3 separate regions of the Homo sapiens genome follow, and regions 2 and 3 are each linked to region 1. Evidence: fine-mapped expression QTL. A gene starts in region 1. Each other region holds a variant in brackets. All regions are shown on one strand. Distances are from middle to middle. Region 1 holds the start of PVT1 (Pvt1 oncogene). Region 2 holds the start of MIR1205 (microRNA 1205). Region 3 overlaps PVT1 (Pvt1 oncogene).

The links.
Region 2: its variant is fine-mapped to the expression of PVT1 in whole blood (TOPMed, PIP above 0.99).
Region 3: its variant is fine-mapped to the expression of PVT1 in blood mononuclear cells (TOPMed, PIP above 0.99). The same link has a PIP of 0.9 or more in Th2 cells, adrenal gland, esophagus mucosa, fibroblasts, follicular helper T cells and lung.

What each region holds. Positions count from the first base shown.
Region 1 is chr8:127,792,452-127,797,674 of GRCh38, reverse strand. It overlaps PVT1 (Pvt1 oncogene), which reads right to left and starts at 3,151. Exons shown (of 9, transcript NR_190187.1): 1 at 2,941-3,151. MIR1204 (microRNA 1204) reads right to left here and starts at 1,713; the gene lies at 1,647-1,713. RefSeq lists enhancers at 1,676-2,015, 2,116-2,165, 1,887-2,458, 2,459-3,028, 4,171-4,741 and silencers at 3,146-3,305, 3,316-3,375, 3,396-3,445.
Region 2 is chr8:127,959,796-127,965,018 of GRCh38, reverse strand. All of the region lies in intron 3 of PVT1 (Pvt1 oncogene), which reads right to left. It overlaps MIR1205 (microRNA 1205), which reads right to left and starts at 4,386; the gene lies at 4,324-4,386. RefSeq lists enhancers at 109-720, 4,035-5,010 and a cis regulatory region at 4,517-4,628. The variant G/A (reference allele first, on the strand shown) is at 3,252.
Region 3 is chr8:127,994,046-127,999,268 of GRCh38, reverse strand. The region is part of intron 4 of PVT1 (Pvt1 oncogene); the gene reads right to left. It also overlaps the pseudogene RNVU1-32. Among named protein-coding and RNA genes, the nearest start is that of MIR1206, 12 kb to the left of the region's middle. RefSeq lists an enhancer at 2,599-2,688. The variant G/A (reference allele first, on the strand shown) is at 2,505.

The DNA of each region.
Region 1 (5,223 bases):
TACATGCACTATTATTGTTCTTATTATTAATTGTTATTTATTACCGTTATTAGTTCCTTAGATTATTTGAGGTCAGAAAACAGAAGAGACAAAGGGGGCTCCTGCCAAAGGACCCATTTTGGCAGCATTCCAAAAGGCCTTGAATTTCTGAGACTCTCTAGGGATGATATTGAAGTGACTGTCCACAGGACTCAATGGTCCAAATGATTCCAGATTGTTGCTCTGTTCCCATCCTCAGTCAGGGTCCCACCATGGACACTGGGAATATAAATTGGGGTGGGGGGTGTGGTCCTGATCCCTCAAAGAGATCACAAACCTGCATCAGGAAACAATAAAAAGCAAAACAAGGCCGGGTACTGTGGCACCTGTAATCCCAGTACTTTGGGAGGCCGAGGAGGGCAGATCACCTGAGGTCAGATGTTCGAGACCAGCTTGACCAATCTGGAGAAACTCCGTCTCTACTAAAAATACAAAATTAGCCAGGCATGGTGGTCCATGCCTGTAATCCCAGCAACTTGGGAGGCCTCCCAGCATTTTGGGAGGCCAAGGCGGGCGGATCACCTGAGGCTGGGAGTTCAAGACCAGCCTGACCAATCTGGAGAAACTCCGTCTCTACTAAAAATACAAAATTAGCTGGGTGTGGTGATGCATGCCTGTAATCCTAGCTACTTGGGAGGCTGAGGCAGGAGAATCGCTTGAACCTGGGAGGCGGAAGTTGCAGTGAGCTGAAATCCAGCCATTTTACTCCAGCCTGGGCAACAAGAGTGAAACTCTGTCTCAAAAAAAAAAAAAAAAAAGCAAAACAAGAGAAAAAGAAGAATCTTATGTCTGCAGCCAACTATGAAAGGAAATGCAAAATAAAAAGGCCACACATCCAGAAGGGCCACCTGATATAAAACAAATAGCAAAGGGGCAGCCATCAGCAGGCCTGCCACTGCCTCTCCAGACGACCTGGACCGGCAACTATCCAAAGTCTTCCACTTCCCCCAGATATTCTGCCAATACTCTGCCCAAATGCAGGGCCACTCACACAAACAGGAGGAAAGAACAGGGTGTCTTATAGTCCAGGAGATCTCTTGACAAAGCTGCCAGAGAAACGTGTCCATCTTGGGCAGGCAGAAGGCCCAGGCATGGCAAACACAGGCTCCAGAATCCAGCCAGAGTGCCTGCCTACCGCTCAGGAGGCGGAAAAAAAAAACAACTAAAGAACAGGGAATTGATTTGATGTGGGCAGTGAGAATTCACCAGGTTTTCAGACCAGCAATCATATAAACTAGTGGGGATCAGATATGTCAGAACAGAGGGGAGAACTCCTCCTTTCCAGTGCAGAAAAGCTCCAGCCACAGAAACACAGCATGGAGGTGGCGAGGGGCGGGGGAAGGTGTTTAAGACAGAGGAAAAGGAAAGTTAATCAGAAAAAAAACAAAACAAAACAAAAACGGACTTCTATTTTTCAAGAGAAGCCGTTTATGCAAAAATTCTGCACTCAAGATAGATGAGGCAACAAGAATAAGCCACTCTTAACCAGGCAAAACAGCAACACAACCACTTAACAAATCCCTCTGGGAATTCAATGGGTACAGCATATACCCCACAGTCATACCCGTAAGTGGAATTCCAGTTGGGCCCTTGTGCCGAAGCTTTAGACCACGAGGCACGTCCTCACCTCCAAGATGTAACTCATCTCAAATAATGGAGACCAGGCCACGAGGTTTCTCCCAGACACGGATTCTGTATTTGTCCTTCTGCAGCTTCCGGGAAGGTTTTTCTCCTAATAAATCCTGTAGAAAGTTCCACTCAGGGTTCTGAGGATTGATACAACCCCCTTCTTGACTGATCAGAGCTTTAGAAAGATTCGCTATGACCACAGGACTGTGTCAAGTTGAACAAGTCTCAACTTGTCGCTGCCAGTATGCAAAATAGGTCTGAAACATCTTATAACAGACAACACAGCAGACACAGTCCCTGCATCCTCAGGGCCCCCGCCCACCCACCACACACAAACACATTTCTCTAGAGTTTTTTTTTCCTAGCAAGGAACTAGCCCCAGTAGCCAGGATTCACAGTGGTGGAGTGGGCGAGAGACAGGCTAACAGCCTCTCTCTGGAAAACCTAATACCAGAAAGGAAACACCAAAACCTCATCCTCTTGTCCCTAAATCCTTGCACGTGATTTCTTCTCCTCTCTAATGTTCTAGAAGGGCCTAAAGTCAGGAGCTTAGATGAACAGAAGAATCTTCCATGCCTGCAAACCACCAGGAAAAGGCATGAGGCATCCACACACAGACGCATGCAGCTTCATGGCTGTGCTTCCTGAAAGTCTACACCCAGAACCACAAACACTGGCATAAATAAGAGCACGTTAGCAAGAGAAGGCAAACCTAATTAAATCAACAGCCCAGCCAAGAAGAATGACCATGATGAGGGTTTAGGAGCACCCAACAAACCCTCACATGCGATGCAAAAACTGAGAAAGTCTCAAAACACGGAGTTACTGAGTTTTTGGAAATCACCTTCGCCCAGCCCTGAGGGGGTGTGAGAGGAAGCGGGGAGTGATGGTCAAAGGATGGAGGGAGGATCACACATTCACAGACCTCTAGTTTCGCCAGAGGGGCCTCCAAACCACATCATGGCTCCAAATCTGTTCTGACTGCAGAGGGGTCTATTTTTAGAAATTAGTTAATATGCCTTTGATCAAGTTCATAAATCCAGAATTGCCTCTATGCACCGGCCATTCGGTGTCATCCCCCTCCCCTCACCCTCCCCAAACGCCCAAACTCGCCACCAGTCTTGAGGCTGGTGATGAGGACAGTGCACGCCTAGCACACACATATTGGATTCCGAAAGCCCCTTTCCTCCGTCCGACTACTCACAGCGCATCCCTACTCAGGGCCAAGTCTCGAGAGTTTCCAGAAACGCAGGGGACAAAATTGGAACTTACTGGAGGGCAGATCTGGCCGTGTCTCCACAGGTCACAGGGACCGCCAACATCCTTTCCGCAAGGAAATCCACTGGAAGGTGCCGGGGGTCCCGGGGCACATCTTTGCTCGCAGCTCGTCGTCGCCCCTCCTCGTCCCGGCCGCCCCGAGCCCGCCCGGCCCGCGGGCCCATGTGCTCGGCCGCCACACGCGCTCTGCCCGGAGGAGCGCGGGGCTGGCGGGTTGCCCGTGACGTCACGGCGGCTCGCGCTCGGGCCTCGGGGGAGGGGGGAGGCGCGCGCGGCCCGGCCCGCCGCGTGCGTCCTCGGTCCCGGCGCTCCCGGCCTTCCCCAGGTCCCCGCCCGCCGCCCGGTGCGCCCCTCAGCCTGCTTCCCGGCAGCGCAGGGCACTGAGCCGGAGAGGGCCGCGCGCGGAGGCGGGGCGGGCTTGGGCGACTGCGGCCGCCAAGGGCCCAGACTGGGGGAGCGGAGGGTAGGCTCTGCCCTGGGCTGGGGGTCCTCGCTACAAGCGCGCCGGAGTCCCACCGGGCCGGAGGGAATCCCCGGTGATGCCAGCTCGCTTGTGCGCCGAGCTTTCCACGGTCTTTCCCTGAGCCCTCTTACCCTTCCCCACACCGTCCTGGAAGCAAGCGGTCTTCCCACTTTCCTGCTGAGGAAGGCGAGTTCAGTGAAATAGGAGGGCCAGAGATGCTCCGGGATAGGTGCAGTTCCCGCAGAAGACCGCCGACTGAGCTCCAGCTCCAGTGATCTGAGCGCCTCTTTGGGTACCACCCAGCATCCGCCGGCCTGGTGAGAAGGGCGCGCGCACCTTCTCGCCTCCTTCGACGTCTCCCGCTGTTTCCAGAAGCCGAGTTGCAAACCCGTGCAGAGGGCCAGCGGTCTGCGCAGCTCCCTCCACTCCGGGCAGAGTTGACCTACAGAGTGTGTTCAACGAGTCCCTTAAATGCCCAGTAGTTCCTCCAAAGGAGCAAGTGGACACTGGCCTCCCATGTGGGATGTGGTTATCTTGTTCTATCTGCATAAACCCGAGACTGGACAGATGTAAGAGCTGCCCCTGTTCAGTTCAAAGTTTATTTTATTTATTTATTTATTTATTTATTTATTTATTTATTTAGAGATGAAGTTTCACTCTGTCACCCAGGCTGGAGTGCAGTGGCCCGATCATGGCTCACTGCAACCTCCGCCTGCCTGGTTCAAGCGATTCTCCTGCCTCAGCCTCCGGAGTAGCTGGGATCACAGGCGCGCGCCACCACGCCCAGCTAATTTTTGTAATTTTAGCAGAGACAAGGTTTCACCATGTTGGCCAGGCTGGTCTCGAACTCCGAACCTGAGATGATCCACTCGCTTCGGCCTCCCAAATTGCTGGGATTACAGGCGTGAGCCACCACGCCAGCGCCCGTCCAGTTCAACGTCTACTGAGCACTTAAGGGGAGTCAGGCACCCAGCTAGGCAATGGGGTGGGGGTTACTCATGGACCCTAGAAGGACGTCACAAACCAGCAAAAATTGGACACACAAATGGGTGGTATCAATATTACGGAACAGAAGGTTGCCCCTCTTCTCCCCTGCCGGCTACCCTACATCCTACTCACTCCAACCTACCCGGAGGCTCCTCCCTCTTTCTGTGTAGTGTTTCATCACATCTCTTCCCGTGGCGGCTTCTCAACGCAAATGTTCTTATTTGAAAAAGAAAAAACAATTACTCAGTTGATGCTCCTGTTCTGCCTGTTTCACAGATTCATTTACACTCATGGGCATCTCTTTTGTGCCTGGCTCCTTGCCAGGAGCTGGACAAGTCTCCGCTTTGTGCCTGGCTCTCTGTGAGGGGCTGGACAGGTGTCTGTTTTGTGCCTGGCTCTCTGTGAGGGGCTAGACAGGTGTCTGTTTTGTGCCCGGCTCTGAGAGGGACTGGGCAGGTGCCTGAGCTGCAGTTGGCATCTAGTTGTCATCCATCTTTTAAAATATAAAAAGAAGATGATGAGAAACCTCTGCATCTATACATCATGCGATAGGAGCTGTGAGACCTTAATCCTTTCACTGCTTAATCATTTTTTCCAGAAACCAAAGGCTGTGACCTTGAGGAAGCCAGTGTCCTCCTGGGGGATGCTGGTGGGCTATGAGAGGACCAGCTTCTAATGGCAGACGTCTCTGTCCATGTCCTGACAGTTGATGCCCAGTCCCTTCTGCATGGAAAATCTCCCCTGGCTGAAAAGACACTTTCACCCAGGACTCACTCAACTTTGACCTTGATGCTGTTTGCCCTCTCTGGGTCTCCAGCTCTCATGCA
Region 2 (5,223 bases), 170 kb before region 1:
GTGCCTATGACCTTATTTGGGAAAAGGGCTTTTGCTGATGTAATGAAGTTAAGAATCTTGGATAGGAGTGGGGGCTCACGCCTGTAATCCCATGCTGTGGGAGGCTGAGGCAGTACAATGGCTTGAGCTCAAGAGTAGGAGAGCTGCAAGGGGAACATGGTAAAACCCCATTCTTAAAATAAATCAATAAAATAATAATAAAATTAAATAAAGTTGTTTAAAAATAATAATCTTGAGATGAGATCATTGGAGGCCCTAAAACATGAGGAGAGACGGACATAGAGAAGGTACGTGGAGACAAGAGCAGAGATTGGAATGATTCTGCCACAAGCCGAGCAACATCCAGTGCCACAAGCAGCTGGAAGAGGCAAGGAAAGGGTGTCCCTTAGCACCTCAGAGGGTGTCAACCTCGCTGACACCTTGATTTCAGACTTCTGGCCTCCAGAACTGTAAGACAATAAATTTCTGTTGTTTTAAGCTACCAAATCTGTCGAAATTTGTTACTGCAGCCACAAAAAAACAATAAGGGCCTTTGCCTCCAGCAGGAGAAGGAAGCCAGGCTTTGACTCTGGAGGGTCTGAAGCCCAGTGTGGCTAGAACCCTTCCGAGGACCTCCATCCTCCAGTTCTGCTCCCACTGGTGGCTTCGGTTGGTCGCTGCTGTATCCGCCAAGCTGAGAATGGGCCACCACAAGACAGGCATAACCAGGAACTATTTCTGAACCAGTGAGCTAATGGCCTCCCACTCTGACATCCAGGTGCATGCAGGCCTGCTGCAGGGAACACACCACCGAACATCTGGGAATGACAACTGTCAAAACAGGACTCCCAGCAGATGCTGCTCCTCTCCAGGCATGGCTGACTTGCCCCTCTTTGCCCAGCCTTCCCTGAACCCATCTGCTTGTCCTGGAAGGACGCTCCTGGGGGTCATCGTCGTCATGGCACTCCTTCATCTGCAATAAGCCTTCGCAGTCCCTGTGGGGATCTCCCTCCAGCTGTGAGTTCCCTCACAGTGCAAATTCAGCCATTCTCCACTCGACATTCAACCCCTGACAAACGTTACTGGACGAATAAACGATCCTAGAACTGAAAACAGAATACGAAGATATTTCTATTCCAACTCTTCAGTCAATATATATTCAAACCAAGAATCAGAGAAGTGGAGGGAACCACCAGGACCAGGTCCCAAGGCACGCAGGACAAAGGCCATGCTGGATTTAGGGCAGGACTCCATTCCTCCATTCCAACCCCACCTGGGCCCCAGCTAGATCAGCTTCCTCCCCAAACATCATTCCCTGATGTTTCCCAAGTGCCAAAAATCATGCCTGACACATAGTACATGTTTGAGTGAATATTTATTAAATAGGCCCAGAAGTCAGAGTGGAGATGTACAAAGTTGGTTTCAATATTTGTAAATGCTGCTGCTTCAAAAAAAGGGTGGAGGGGGGTGGGGGGTGCTGCCTTTCTATGGAAAAGTTAAAAATATCTAAGAGTGCTAAATCCCCCTGTGTTAGTAGTTCAGGGAACTTTTCTGCCACACTTTTTCTCAGAGGAGGCAGGAGTGGGTGAGAACAAGAATTGAGTGATTTCCAATAACAACGCTAGTGTAAACAACCACACTCACCCATGCACCAAACAGGTGGCAAATCTCACCAGGTGTCAGACACTGAGAGAAGCACCAGGGACACACAAATGGCAAACCCCAGTCCTGCCCCGTGGACCGCACCATCCAAGGTAGAGGGCAGGCAGTCACCAACATGGTGGCAAGTGGCCGATGCGAGCCTAGGACCTGGGATAACAGAGCATGGTGTGAAGTCAGCCTGGGCAGGGGCAGGAAGGCTGCCGTGCGAGGGGTGGAAGATCTCAGAACTGAAAAGATCCTGTCTTGGGCACTTCTAGGAAGAAGAGAAAGCTGCTGGGCAGGGTGAGACCCAGACTCTGTTGAGGAAAGAGAGGAGAGCTGGCCAGCCCGATCTCAATCCCGCAGGCCAGAGGTCCATTGGGGCCCTCTTCCAAACACCTCCTCTTCCCTGACCACCCCAGTGAGGATCTGACACTACTGCCCATCTGCAAGTAAAATAGGGACTGCTCCTTTGTAAAACAGGGACCCTAAAATGCAGATGAGGCCAGGCATGGAGGCTCATGCCTGTAATCCCAGCACTTTGGGAGGCCGAGGTGGGCGATCACCTGAGGTCAGGTGTTTGAGACCAGCCTGGCCAACACGGTGAAACCCCGTCTCTACTAAAAATACAAAAATTAGCCAGGTGCAGTGGTGTGCCCCTGTAATCCCAGCTACTCGGGAGGCTGAGACAGCAGAATCACTTGAACCCAGGAGGCAGAGGCTGCAGTGAGCCGAGATAGCACCCCCGCACTCCAGCCTCGTCAACAAATCGTCAACAAAAAAAAATAAAATGCAGACGAACCTCCAGAAGACAAGGACAAAAACCGCAACCTGGGTGTGAGAACACCCAGGCCCTAGGCCTTAAGAGGGATGGTAACCCCTAGCCCTGTCATCTACAAAATAAGGTCACAGCAGAGCTAGATGATCTATAATGTCACAGCTGAAGTTAAAAAATTCAATGAGTTGATCACACCCAACTCAAGGTGCTGGCTTAAGGATTAAGAAGGAACACATGTGTCAAAAACCATTAGGCTGCAAAGCAGTGCCACCGATGATCATGTGTACAACAACAACCCCCTAAATGTGTGGCCCACTCCCAGTGAGCCAGCCCTGGGCTCAGAATTCTACATTCATGGCCGGGAGCGGTGGCTCACGCCTGTAATCCCAGCACTTTGGGAGGCCAAGGCAGGTGGATCACGAGATCAAGAGATTGAGACCATCCTGGCCAACATGGTGAAACCCCGTCTGTACTGAAAATATAAAAATTAGCTGGGAGTGCCCCTGCAGGCCCAGCTACTTGGGAGGCTGAGGCAGGAGAATCGCTTGAACCCCAGAGGCGGAGGTTGCAGTGAGGCGAGATCGCGCCACTGCACTCCAGCCTAGGCGACAGAGCGAGACTCCGTCTCAAAAAAAAAAATTCTACATTCATTATCTCCTTCGTCCTCACAACAAACCTGGAGAATGCAGAGGTGCTACATTTCTACCCACTTTATAGACCAAAATGTGAAGTTACAGGTTAGTCATTGTTGAAGCCAGAAACCAGGAGTCAGACTCGGGCAGGGGGGGCCTCTGGAGCTCCTGAAGGCCATCCCCACTCCCTAAACAAGGTTGAGAAGGTGTGGTTTAAAGAG[G/A]AACACCATGGAAGGAAACCAGTGCTTTCTTCACTTTTTAGTCTGGCAAAACAATCCTTCAAGTTGTTCCGTGGTTTGGAGAACAGTAATGTGTATGGGTAACAGGTGCTCAGTGGTACGGACAAGGTTATACATTTCCAGCCTCAGAGTCTTCAAGGCAGCTTGCTGGTAGGAGAACCTGGATTTGCTCATGCAGTCTTGGGCACAGCCCTCACTTACCTTAGATGCTCACCCAGCTTGGGGTGGGGCACAGCCCCTCCAGACTCCAGCCCAAACAATCCCCATCACCTCCGCATTTCCTAGTACAACACACAGCACCGAATCTATTCAGTGGCCTAAGCTGGACACAGAAAAGAACATTTTACCCCTTCCTTCCTGTAACCCCAGAGGCTCTTCGTGCACCGCGTTCAGGGACTTCTCTCTTGGGTCTCCAGTGCATCCCTGTCTCCTCCAGCTCAGGCCCCGTCACCACTGGCCACCAGCTTGGACCTCCCTCTGATCTTGTCTTCCTATGGCAGAGGCCATGCTTTCTGAAATGCTAATCTCTCCCTCTCTCACCTCTGCTTAAAATCTGCATCATGAGACCATCGCCCTCAGCACAAAGTCAAAATGGTCTTTCTAGGATCTGGCCTCTGCTTACCTTTCCTGTCTCCCTCCTGCCTCTTCTCTGGGCAAACTCCTTCCTTCCCCTGACCACCCTAAGTCCACACCCTGGGCCCTTCTGTGTGCCTATGGCACCCTGTGTCCCCAGGCAGGCACCTTGGCTGTGATTATCTGATTTCTCATCTAAATTCCTCCCCTATTCGTGCCCGCCCGCCCCCCCCACCCCCAAACACACACACAAGAGAACAAAAAATCTCTAAGGAAAAAGAGCACTTCCAACTCATTCCTGTACTTCCAGAATGCATGCAGCACCATGCCTGGCCTGCAGTATGTGCTCAATTAAACTATTGCATAATGAGAAATACCCTATGTTTTGAAGTGTCCAGGAAATTGAAACAATAATACTCTCTCCCCACAAAAAACAGAAAACAGTTATCTATGCCTCAGTTTTTGTGTCTGAAAAATGGAGACAGACTCCAGAACAGGGTTGACAGGAAGGAAGTACCTCAAAGCAAACCCTGCAGAGGCCTTCAGTGATAAGTGTTCACTTTCCCTATCTTCAGCTTGCTGATTTCCCTATCGTGGTGCATCCATCCAGAAGGCCACAAAGATCCTATCTCCCACCAACTGAACTTCAAAAGCATCTTTATCTGCAGAACCCACCTCAAGGAAGGTCGATTCCTAACTTCTCTCGGTGATCCTTTTATTCTGGGCTAGCTAGGCACACCCGCCCAGCCTTATCTGTAATGTCCCCAAGCTGTTGTCTTTCCAGGAAGGGTGTCTCCTATCTACAGGCCTCCAGGAGGCAAGACCAGGGAGGCAAATGGAGGAGAGCCACTCTGTGACCTGAGATCTGGCTTCTGCCACCCTCAAGCTGTGTGACCTGGGACAAATCAACCCATTCATCAGAGGCTCAGCTTCCCCATGTACCCCTCTGTTCAAAAAAGGGAGTAGACTCACGGACCCTCCAACTTGGAAACTGCAGTAACAGGCTGTACTGGACATGTTGAATGAACACCACAATGGCTGCCTAAGCCGATCCCTTCTAGCAAAAGAGGGAGAGTGAAGCAGAAAGAAATCAGGGAAATTTCCAGAAATCATGTCATCCTGGGTTGCCTGAAGATGACAAAACTACGACGTACAGGAGACCCCTTCCAGGAATCACATACTGCATCCGGGGAAGGCCAGAAGTAAGTGCAGACATACATGAAAAGGCAGGCATTAGGGATGGTTAAGTGGATGCCAATTCCCTGCTTCCAGAAATGAACTCAGCCTAATGAAAATTCTGCAGGCGCCTCACCTGTATATTGCACTTGGGGCTAGGAGTGCAAGCCACCCAGGGGCTCCTGACGGGCTGCTCACCTAGGTC
Region 3 (5,223 bases), 200 kb before region 1:
CATTACCACAAATTATGCAGTCAAGTCTCCCACATTTGGGGGAATCACAGGGGTCAGCACATCGGGAGTGCAATGGATAAGCCTCACCCTGGGGAAACCACCTTTGTGATCATGGTATCTCCCCTGCCAGGTAAGTATTCATATGTGTTAAAAAAATTGTTCTCCCCATCCTCCCTACACACATATATTTCACTGCTCTGTCAGTTGAGAAGATCTGGAGGAAACAACACCTCAAGCACATCTAGCACCCAGATCTTGGATTCTAAGTCCTTTCTCCAGTAAAATGACAGGGGATCCTTGAAGAAATGGCTGATTCTATAACTGGGGCTGGAAATATACAAGATAAGCCCTAAGCATCTTATAGTGCCAGAAAGTATGGATGCACCAAAAAAAGAGAGAGAGAGAGAGAGAGGGAGGGAGGGAAGGAAGGAAGGAAGGAAGGAAGGAAGGGGAGGAGGAGAAGAGGAAGGAGGAAAGGAAGGAAGAAAGGAAGGAAGGAAAAGGAAGGTAGGAAAAGAAAGGAAGAAAAGGAAGGAAGGAAGGAGAAAGGAAGGAAAGAAAGAAAGAAAGAAGAAAGAAAAGAGGAAGGGAGGGAAGGAAGGAAGGAAAAAAGGAAGAAAAAGGAAGGAAGGAGGGAGTGAGGGAGGGAGGAAGGAAGGAAAGAAAAGAAAAAAGAAAAGAAAAGAGGGAGGGAGGAAGGGAAGGAAGGAAGAGAGAGAGAGAGAGAGAGAGAAAGAAAGAAGGAAAGAAAAGGAAGAAAGAAAGACCCATAATAAGAAAGTATGTCAAATGGGCACAGGAAGTAACTGAAGAGTTCCCAATAGCCAAGGAAGAAAAACCATGAGCAACAAAATAAAACCATATTATTGGATTATAACTCAAATAAATTAAAAATTATCAAATAAATACCTGCAAGTCCATGCTGATATATAAATAAATAAATAGGAGAGAGGAGTTAAATCTCCCAGGTAGAAAAAATCTAAATAGTTCATGTAGATCCTCTAGCCATGGAGAAGGAAGAGCAGGAATGCCCTCTTCTTAGGGGATGGCTATGCACAGTGACTTCCTTCTGAAGAGTTTAATATAAAAAGGGAGTTAAGAAAGAACAAAAACACAAAAGTATCTTTAAAGTGGACAAACCTGACAACCACTACAGCAGCCAGGTAATCAAAGTCAACATCAGTGATAGGTCATGCTGATGGTGCCTACCCTTGATTTCATAAAAGCGGAACTTTACCTCTGTGGCCTTCCTCCATAATCCCAATCTAATAAGAAGAAGAATCAGACAACCCTCACAGAGGTACGTTCTATGAAATACCTGACCAGTCAAAACTGGTCATCAAAACTCAAGACTGTCAATGTCATCACAAACCAGGAGAGTCTGAGAAAGCGGCACAGCCCAGGGCAATCTAAGAAGACATGATCACTAAATGTGATGTGGGATCCCAGATGGGATCCTGGACCAGGTAAAAACTAAAGTAATGTTTCAACTTCAGTAAATAATAATGTATCAATATTGGTCCATTAATTGTGGCAAATGTGCCACACTAATGCAAAGCGTTAGTAACAGGGAAAACTGGGAGCAGGGTATATGAGAACTTTTTGAACTGTTTTCACAATTCTCCTGTAAATCTAAAACTCTTCTGAAAATAGAGTTTATTCTTTAAAAGTGTCTGGAGGATGTGCACAAGGGTGTGGCAGCAGAGGGGCTACAGGTAAAAAATCATGACATCTGGAATATTTCCTTCAATTTTTGCTCCACACGGTGACTATCTTACCCTGCTCCCATTAAACTCTGAACAATGTTATCAGCCTGAAAAATGGATTGGCAGGAATGTGTAATGTCGAAGCTGGGAGGGACTATGGCGGCCATCCAGGCCCCTGCTTTCAATTACACTTGAGGAAAATCAAATCCAAAGACCGGAAGCGGCCAGGCTCGGTGGCTCACTCCTGTAATCCCAGCACTTTGGGAGGCTGAGGCAGACGGATCACCTGAGGTCAGGAGTTCGAGACCAGCCTGACCAACACGGAGAAACCCCATCACTACTAAAAATACAAAATTAGCCGGACGTGGTGGCGCATGCCTGTAATCTCAGCTACTGGGGAGAATCGCTTGACCCCGGGAGGCAGAGCTTGTGGTGAGCTGAGATCACGCCATTGTACTCCACCCTAGGCAACAAGAGTGAAACTCTGTATCAAAAAACAAACAAACAAAAAAAAAAAACGAAAGCAAATGACCAGTGAATGTTCCAGTTCAGTGCCCATGGGTAGAGCTGAAATCCTCAGGGTCCTGGAAGACTGATGGACAGCAATGTCAGCCTGTCCTCAGAACAGGCCACTCTGCAGAGGAAACCGAGGCTCACAAGAGCCAAGAGCCTTCTTCCCAGCCAGAGGGCTGGCAAGCAGCAAAGCAGAGAGCCAGGTTCAGGTCTCCTTTCCGGCTTCACAGAAGTGCTACCTCCCTGCTACCACTAACCCTCACACCCCCGACCCCTGTCCCCATG[G/A]CCAGTCACTTTCCCGTTTCCTCCCACAGCAGCAGGGGGCGGCGGCTGAAGACTCAGGTAAGATGCAACTCAGGGAGGATGGCACTTAGATTGGTTTCTCTTTCTTTTTTTCTTGATTCTGTCTTTATGAAACTTTGCTTTAACCCAACATTGTTTAAATCCCGACCTGGTTTCTCGTGAGCTTGAAGCCAGGGTGCCCACACTCTGCAAAAGAAGAAAAATGCCAGTATGAGTCCTTGAGGCTCAGTGTTGTTGTGCAGTCCGTGGACAGGACAATGTCCTCATTTCAAGGTTTCATTTTTGGAGGAAAAAAAATTCCTCAGGATGCAGGATGCCCTGCATCCCATAATGGGTATGCCCCCATTGAAACCAGCTCTGGGAGGGTGACCAAACTAAAAAGGAAACAGTTCCAAGCAGAAGGACACAAATTACCAGCAGAGTCATTATTACTCACAGCAATTCAGGCCCAGGGTCTATGTGGTGCAGGGTTTCTGAAAGCCGGCCTATACCTGGGAAGGAGGGAGAGAACCAGAGGCCTGGATGCTGGGTGGAGGTTCTGTGATTTACTTTGTTACAAATTTAAGAATAAAACCTGCTGGATCAGGAGCTTTTCCTATCTCCTCAAATAAACCTGGATCCCAAGAGGAACAGAAAGGAGAAAGGTGAGTGTGGGAGAGGAATTGGAGTGCAAGCTCAGAGGTCCTTGAGGGAGGGAGGAGAAGGTGTCTGCTTTGGGGAATGGCAATAAGAGGTATGTTGGGATGGAGATACCCAAATGTGTAGCACTTATACCGATTTAGCAAATGGTCCTCTCATTAGCAAAAGCTTCTAAACATTAGCCTTAAGTTTAAAAAAAAAAAGGACATTTGAAATTATGCAAAAGCCCAGAGCACCAATATGCGCTTCACATACGTTCCGCAGGAAGATTCCTTCATTTGCAAACTGGAGTATATTACGTAATCATTTCCATTTCCTGGCAGGTTGTGAAGAGTAAATGACATCATATAATGTAAAGTGCTTGAAACACCATGAATAATACATTTGAGCTATTACTATTTTTACCATGATTACTGGTAGATTAAAAGCAGTCTCTTCATGGCCATCTTGATTACTACTAGTACTAACACGACCATCACCGCAAACACTACTACTACTATAAGGATAGTACTTTATTAGCGGTGCTTAATAGAATCTATTATAATTCTCAATACTTAGCATATTTCAGGAGGAAAACTGACTGACGGACTGATATAATGCACAATTAAAGAAATGAACAAAGAAATGGATAGATTCCTATAATGTGGGGGGTGTATCTTAAAAGAAAAGCAGTCCAATAGGTTTCAAAGAGCAAAACCAGGAGTCAAGAGCTGTCTCTAATCCCAGGAGCCGGATGCTGTGAACACAGGAGTGTTCAATAAATACCTAACTGATGTCTGAGCAAGGAAGAGACAAAGAATGACAACAGTCAATTGGGCTTAGCTTAGATAAACACTCAAAGCCAGGATACAGACAGAACAGGACAAGAGTGGCTCTTACAGTCACTTGATTCAGGGTCCTTGTTTTAATGATGGGGCTGTGAAGGATCAAAGGGGTCAGCTGGGGCTCAACACTCAAAGGGCAGCTTTGGGCCAAGTCAATCAAACCAGCCTGGTGAGCTGAGATGCACGTTACCCAGTAAATACAGGTATTGGGATAGACTGTGTCTCTGCAGTGTGATGGTTAATTTTGTGTGTCAACTTGACTGGGCCACAGGATTTCCAGAGAGCTGGTTAAACAGCATTTCTGAGTATGTCCAGATGAGATTATCACTTCAACCAGGAGACTGAGTAAAGCAGATGGTCCTCTTCAATGTGGGTTGGGCCTCATTCAACCCACTGAAGGCCTGAATAGAACAGAAAGGCACAGGAAGGTTGAATTTCATCTCTGCCTGATTGCTTGTTCTGGGACATCGATCTTCTCCTGCCCTTGGCATTCCTGGTCCTCAGGCCTTCGAATCTGGACTGGAATCTACACTACAGGTTCTCCAGCCCTCTGCCCTTTGTGACACGACAGCTGTTTCCTAGGTCTCCAGCCTGCAGGTGGCAAATCACAGGACCCCTCTGGGTCCATAATTGCATGAGCCAATACCTTATAATAAATAAATCTCCTAGATATAGATATAAATATCAAGGTAGATATTGATATAGACATGGATACGCATCTATCTTCATGTTCTATTGGTCCTGTTTCTCTGGAAAGCCCTGACTAATACATCTGTATATTTTGAAGGCTTTAAAGAAGGACAAAGCTCTTTTTTATCCACTCTGTTAACTCCTCATAGCCTATCTCAGCAACTGACTCATAACAGGAAAGTGGACAAGGGCAGAGAGGACAGGAGGGAATGGCTACCTCCTGCCAGTCACCACACAAGGTGCTGGGGAGGTGGGTTCAGTGAGACCCAAGGCTCTGCTCCCAGGGAAAGTTGGAGAGATCGTGTTTCCAGGCGAGATCCCAAACACAGCCCCCATCAGCAGAACCCGTCCCACAAGAGGCACTGTAGAGAGAAAGATCCTCATTTTCAGAAGAAACAGAGCTGAAAGAAGGGACTAGGAGTGGGCAGAGGACAATGGTGGAGAAGGAGAGACAGTTGGAGAGGGGGTGAGGAGCAGCACAAGAGAGTACAGAGAATGTGCTGGGAGAACAGGCAGGCACAGGGCAGGTTTAAGGGATTCAGAAGACT